Linked DNA regions of Homo sapiens. The protein of the gene in region 2 interacts with the protein of the main gene of each other region in a pairwise test. Each region holds a gene or a part of one and is shown on either strand. Other genes may lie near its edges.

What was found.
Region 1: the proteins of MT1M (region 2) and RELB interact in a two-hybrid assay, tested with the Homo sapiens proteins (one large-scale study listed by BioGRID and IntAct).

The regions. Positions count from the first base shown.
Region 1 is NC_000019.10:45,007,672-45,011,685, reverse strand, and holds part of RELB (transcription factor RelB), read right to left. Parts: intron 3,229-4,014; exon of another isoform or gene 3,176-3,228; intron 1,873-3,175; coding exon 1,864-1,872; intron 1-1,863.
Region 2 is NC_000016.10:56,631,394-56,634,481, forward strand, and holds MT1M (metallothionein-1M), read left to right. Parts: upstream 1-1,265; 5' UTR 1,266-1,338; coding exon 1,339-1,366; intron 1,367-1,946; coding exon 1,947-2,012; intron 2,013-2,357; coding exon 2,358-2,449; 3' UTR 2,450-2,588; downstream 2,589-3,088. UniProt on the Homo sapiens protein: Metallothioneins have a high content of cysteine residues that bind various heavy metals; these proteins are transcriptionally regulated by both heavy metals and glucocorticoids.

The DNA.
Region 1 (4,014 bases), on a different chromosome or scaffold from region 2:
CAATTGAGGTCAGGAGTTCGAGACCAGCCTGGCCAACATAGTGAAACCCCGTCTCTACAAAAATTAGCCCGAATGGTCTCCCACGTCTGTAATCCCAGCTACTCAGGAGGCTGAGGCAGGAGAACAGCTTGAACCCAGGAGGCGGACACTGCAGTAAGTCAAGATCGTGACACTGCACGCCAGCCTGGGCGACAGAGTGAGACTCCGTCTCTCAATAAATAATAGGCTGGGCGCGGTGGCTCATGCCTGTAATCCCAGCATTTCGGGAGGCCGAGGCGGGCGGATCATGAGGTCAGGAGATCGAGACCATCCTGGCTAACACAGTGAAACCCTGTCTCTACTAAAAATACAAAAAATTAGCCAGGCATGGTGGCACGTGCCTGTAGTCCCAGCAACTCAGGAGGCTGAGGCAGGAGAATCGCTTGAAACCGTCAGGCGGAGGTTGCAGTGAGCCGAGATTGCGTCACTGCACTCCATCCTGCGCAACAGAGCAAGACTCCATCTCAAAAAATAATAATAATAAATAAATAAATAGGCTGGGCATGGTGGCTCACGCCTGTAATCCCAGCACTTTGGGAGGCCGAGGCAGGCGGATCACCTGAGGTCAGGAGTTTGAGACCTGCCTGGCGAACATGGTGAAACCCCATCTCCACTAAAAATATAAAAATTGGGCATGGTGATGTGTGCCTGCAGTTCCAGCTACTCGGGAGGCAGAGGCAGGAGAATCACTTAAACCTGGGAGGTGGAGGTTGCAGTGAGCCAAGATCATGCCATTGCACTCCAGCCTGGGCAACAAGAGCGAAATTCCATCTCTAAATAAATAGATAAATAAATACAAAAATGAGCCAGGTATGTTGGTGCATGCCTGTACTCCCAGCTACTCGGGAGGCTGAGGCAGGAGAATTGCTTGAACCTGGGAGGTGGAGGTTGCAGTGAGCTGAGACAGCACCACTGCACTCCAGCCTGGGCGACAGAGCGAGACTCTGTCTCAAAAAATAACTTAAATAAATAAATAAGAAAGAACTTGCTCCTCCAACTGCCTGTTCCACACGGTCCCCCATTCAACCCATGCTGGCTGCTTCTCCTCCTGGTCTCAGCTCGTATGTTATCTCTTCAGAAAAGCCTAACCTAATGTGTCTTCTCCAGGCCATCTCTCCCTCGTCCTGTTTATTTCTTTCACAGCTCTCAGCCCAGGCTAACATTATCTTGCTCATCTGTTCATTTTCCTCTGTCTCCCACACCGGGCTATCAGCTCTGCGAGGGCAGGGACTTGGTTTTGTTCATGGCTAAATCCCCAGGGCCTAAAACAGTGTCTGTCTGTACTCACTAGGGGATTAATAACATTATTTTATTTTAATTGGTTTTCTTTTTGAGACACGGTCTTGCTCTGCCGCCCAGGCTGCAGTGCAGTGGTGCAATCATAGCTCACTGCAGCCTCGGCTTCCAAGGCAACCTCCCAGGCTCAGGTGATCCTCCCACTTCAGCCTCCTGAGCAGCTGGGACTACAGGTGCGCACCACCATGCCCGGCTAATTTTTAAAAATTTTGTGTAGAGATGGGGGTCTCACTATGTTACCCAGGCTAGTCCTGAACTCCTGGCCTCAAGCAGTCCTCCTGCCTCTGCCTCCCAAAGTGCCAGGATTACAGGTGTGAGTCACACAGCCCCCGGCGTGCTGAGTGTTTTCCAAGTGTCAAGCACTGCTAAGTACCTTAGGAGCATGACTTCGTTCAAATCCCTCCACAGTCCTGGAAGTCACACAGTGACACCTCTCCCCCACCCCCACTGAACAAGGAAGGCCAAGACCCCCTTCTGTAGGCACTTGGGTCCCTCAGCCTCCCCGCAAACCTGCCCTGTGATACTCACCCAATTCATCTGTGGAAGGAAGAGAAAGAGAAAGAGAAAGGTAAGGTCCAGAAAGTGGTCACAACTTTTCATCTTTTAAGACAGATTCCCCAACCCTGTCCCTCCTGTGACCCTTCCGTCTTCCTCCGTCCTGGGAAACCCTGGGCTCTGACTTGCTGGGGCACTAAACCCCAAACCTCATCTTCTCCTCTGGGCTACCATCCTTTCAACCTCTAATGTTGGGGTCCCAGCATCAGGGTATCCTCCAACTAAGCCAAATGCCTCCCGAAAAACATTTAGACCAGGGATTATGAAGTCTTTTTGGGAACCCATTAGAAAGGGGTCTTAGCACCAGGAAAAAGTGGATGCCCAAATTTCCAAACAAATTGGGGTGTGTTCCCTCCCTGAAGTCCACCCCAGGGTCCTGGAGGTCACTGGCTGGTGTTTAAAGATACAAAGAGGTGGCCAGGCCTGGTGGCTCACGCCTGTAATCCCAGCACTTTGGGAGGCTGAGGTGGGCAGATCACTTGAGGTCAGGAGTTCGAGACCAGCCTGGCCAACATGGCGAAACCCCGTCTCTACTAAAAATACAAAAATTAGCTGGGTATCGTGGTGGGCACCTGTAATCCCAGCTACTCGGGAGGCTGAGGCAGGAGAATCGCTTGAACTCAGGAGGCAGAGGTTGCAGTGAGCTGAGATTGCGTCACTGCACTCCAGCCTGGACAACAGAGCGAGACTGTCTCAAAAACAAACAACAACAACAACAAAAAGATGCAAAGAGGCTGATCTGAACCCAGGCAGCCTCTTGCTCTGTACCCCAGCCCTGTCCTCCCACAGTGACCACCCAAAATCCCAGATTCACCCCTGCTTCCTAAGTGAGGAGGTACAGTAATGCTGGGTCCTCAGGGAAGCCCCTTTTCACCTCCCCAGGAAAGCTCAGCCCTTCACAGAATCGTGGAGGAATCGAAACCGACCTCCCGTCATTCCATAGACAGGACAAGGGGAAGCCCAGAGGCCGCCAGTGAGCCTTAGAATCACACAGCAACGGAAGGCAGCTGCAGCCAGGTGTCCCACCCAGGGCTGCCTGCGCTGGTCTCTGGCTGGGGATTTATAGACGCGAACCTGTTCCGCTGCTAGATCTGTCCTCCTCTGTTCTCAGGGAGTGGCTCCTGGCAGCCAGACCTTTGCCCCTTGAAAGGTAGTTTTCCTGCACCCCTTATCTCATGGGATCTGTGAAGCCAGTAGGGTGCCAAGGTCCCCCCAATTTGGCAGATGGGGATACTGAGGCTGGCAGAGAGGAAGGGACACGCTCTAGGTCAGTGGCAGGGCCAACCTCAAGTCACTTGAACTGGGAAAATCCTTCTTAGGCATCTGTGCTGGATGAACCTGGGGACCCAAAGACAGAGTTAGACTTTGGACCCTCCAGAGGCTCCCGGGCTGTAGGGGGAGACTGAGTCCTGGGCGGCTGTGGCTGGAGCTCTGGGTTCACTGCCTCTGTTCAAATCCTGGCTCTGCAACTTGCTAGTTGTGGGGCCATAAGCCTATTACTTCACCTTTTTGTGCCTTGGCTTCTTCATCTGTAAAATGGGCACAATAATAATGCCTACCTTGTTGGGCTAAGATACTTTTATTTAATATTTTATTTTATTTTATTTTATTTATTTTTATTTTTTTGAGACGGAGTCTTGCTCTGTCACCCAGGCTAGGGTGCAGTGGCACAATCTTGGCTCACTGCAACCTCTGCCTCCTGGGTTCAAGTGATTCTCCTGTCTCAGCCTCCCGAGTAGCTGAGATTACAGGTGCACACCACCACACCCGGCTTTTTTTTTTTTTTTTTTTTTTTGTATTTTTAGCAGAGACGGGGTTTTACTATGTTAGTCAGGCTAGTCTCGATCTCCTGACCTCATGATCCGCGCACCTCGGCCTCCTAAAGTGCTGGGATTACAGGCGTGAGCCACCACGCCCAGCCTATTTTCTATTTTTTGAGATGGAGTCTTGCTCTGTCACCCAGGCTGGAGTACAGTGTGGTGCATTCTTGGCTCACTGCAACCTCTGCCTCCCGGGTTCTAGCGATTCTCCTGCCTCAGCCTCCTGAGTAGCTGGGATTACAGTCTCGTACCACCATGCCCGGCTAATTTTTGTACTTTTAGTAGAGACGGGGTTTCACCATGT
Region 2 (3,088 bases):
TGCCCTTCCCCTGTTGTTTAGAAGATTTCCAGCAATAGAGAAGTGCTGACGACATATCTGGACCAAAGGAAGGCTTGATCATGGACACTTTCCTTTAAGAGGCTGGCTGGACTTAAACAAGGGCACAAATTTTTAGCTCTGTGACGACCAGCCAGTTACTTGGACATTTCCTTTGTAGTCCTGTGATGAGCAAAACGGGTTCATAACTAGTATTTCCCTTTAGGATTGCTGTGAGGATTCAAAGAATGAAAGAGATTAAAAAGGGACTGGTGTAGACTCAATGTCATGCAATAGTCAGGTATACTGAAGAGAAACAACTGCATGTCTTGTTTTTTAATTTTATTATTTTAGAGATGCTGACTTGCTATGTGGACTAGGCAGAACTCGAACTCCTGGGCTCAGGTGATCCTCCCGCCTCAGCCTCCTAAGTAGCTGGGACTACAGCTTCCCGCGACCTCACCCATCTTGCTTTTTAATTTAAAGCAGAGTCTGCATATCATCTGAAGTCATCTCTCTTTGGGGACATCCCACAGGTCCAGAACTGCCAGACGGTAGTGGGGTGGCCGGCTAGGCTGTGGGGAGCATGGAGATTTATCTGCAAAGGAGGACCTGGACAAATGTTCCCCCACATCCTCTCAGGCGAAGAGAATGGACGGGAGAGAGAGGCCGACCAGTGTTCCCCGTGTTGCTGTGTACGGAGGAGCCAGTCCGAGGGACCGCGGTGTGGACAGGGACAGGCAAGGCGGGGAAGGAGGAGAAACGAAAGCCACATTGGTGGCGGGTGCTCTGCACACGACTCGCTCCCTACCACACGCCCCCCGCTCCGCACACGACCGATCCGGGGACTGGAGCAGGAGGGCTGCACCGGGACTCCGGGACAGGCCCAGTTGAAAACGGCGGGGCGAGGGGGTGGGGTGGAGACGCCCGCGACGCCAAGGCTGGGGTCCCGGAAAGCGCGGGGAGGAGGGTGGAAGGCAAAGGCAACTTCGGGGAAACTGGGAAAGGCGGCCGGGACCTCGGGGACACTGCGTACCACCCGGCGCACAGCCCCTCCCGCGCAAACCCGAGCCAAAGGGGCGGTCGAGCGGCGCACTCGGAGCGGAGCTCAGGGGATGGTGCGCCCGGCACTTATGCTGGGCTCAGCCCAGCCCAGCCCAGGACCGCTGGCGGTGCGAACCCAGCCGGGCGGGTGCAAGCGCGGGGCAGGGCCTCTGCGCCCGGCCCCCTCCCCTGAGTAGAAAAGCAGCCGCAGGCTGTGGCGCTCCACCACGCCGTCCGGGTGGGCCTAGCAGTCGCTCCATTTATCGCTTGAGATCTCCAGCCTTACCGCGGCTCGAAATGGACCCCAACTGCTCCTGCACCACTGGTAAGAGAAGCCGACCCTGCGCCCTAGGAATCCCATTTCCCAGCCCCAGTACTGAGGGTCTCTGGGTTTGAGGAGGTCGCATTTAAGTTCTGAGCGGAAGGGAATTCCTTTACTTCCTTAGGTGCTTTCTTCCTGATCTCCCCTCTGAGAGCACTGCCCTCCCTCCTGGGCCTCTGGGTCAGAGTTAAGGATACTGAGGGTCAAGGCAGTCCCGCTCCACATCACCCAGTTGGTTAGGGTCCTGCTGGCTGGGCCCCAGTGTTCTCCTCCAGGCTCTGAGCAATCAGGGTGGACTGGGGGCTGGAGACATTTGAGTCTTCAGGGTTCAGCACAGAAGGTTCTGGCTGGCAATCTCAGTATTCCTGGGTTGGGTGTGCCCCTGGGACCTTCCTGGTAGGGTAAAACAGGAGGGTGCTTGCCCTTCCCAGCGTTAGTGGAGAGGACAGGGGCTTTCCCTGAGTGGGAAAGGAGCTCTGAGGGCTGGCCCTGCACAAAGGAGGGGGCACTGGAGACTCATTGACCCATTGCTGTACCTTCTTCATCTCACTCACTGCCCACTGCGTTTTTCTCTTCCTTGCAGGTGTCTCCTGCGCCTGCACCGGCTCCTGCACGTGCAAAGAGTGCAAATGCACCTCCTGCAAGAAGAGTGAGTGCGGGGCCATCTCCAGGAATCTGGGGCTGTGGCTGAGATTGGGAGGGAACCCAAGGCTGGCCCTGAGTGCATCCTTCTGGGGAACTGGGCTTTCTTTGCCCTCATTGCCCGTGTCATTCCCTCTCCAGGCTTTCTGCCCTAAATTCAGATGGGGCAGGACAGCATTTTTCTCTTGGGACACAAATCCCAACTGTAGCATCTATGGTTTCAGAACAGAGCTGTGCCAGACGTAAAAAGCTTCCTCTGGGTCTGGGTTCTGAGCTCCAGCCAGGCTTGCTATTGGGGCAGGGCGGTGCCCGGTCAAGTCTACTGCTACCTCTCTCTCCCCTTCTTCCCCAGGCTGCTGCTCCTGCTGCCCCGTGGGCTGTGCCAAGTGTGCCCACGGCTGTGTCTGCAAAGGGACGTTGGAGAACTGCAGCTGCTGTGCCTGATGTGGGAACAGCTCTTCTCCCAGATGTTAATAGAACAAGCTGCACAACCTGGATTTTTTTTCAATACGATACTGAGCCATTTGCTGCATTTCTTTTTATATTAAATATGTGAGTGACAATAAAACAATTTTGACTTGAATCTTACTCTGTTCTTCTTTGTGTGCCTTGGAAAAAATGGACTGGGTGGGGGTTAAACTGGGAGTTTAGAGACCAGTCTCTGGATGAAAATGTGAGTCACTAACAATGTGAACACCTTCAGGCCAGCCAGGTTACTCACTGAGTTCACCCTTCTGTAAAACGGTATTGCATTGTGCACACCATATGGGTGCGGGCCATACATGATCGCTTTTAGTGTGATTCCAAATGTGGTACAGAAACTTCATCCCTTATTTTTATTTTCTGATTTTCCTCCACAACTTGAGATCCACATTGGATTTTAGGCTTAAAAGTGGCTATAGTGCTGGAACCCAACTTCTTAGTTTCTTGAATCCTACACGGGTGCTATGATTTAGATATTTTGTCACTGCCAAATCTCATGTTGAAATGTGTCCTCCACTATTGCAGGTGGGGTCTAGTGGGAGCTTTTGGGGCCATGAGGACAGATCCCTAAAGAATGGCTTGGTGCCCTCCCATGGTGAA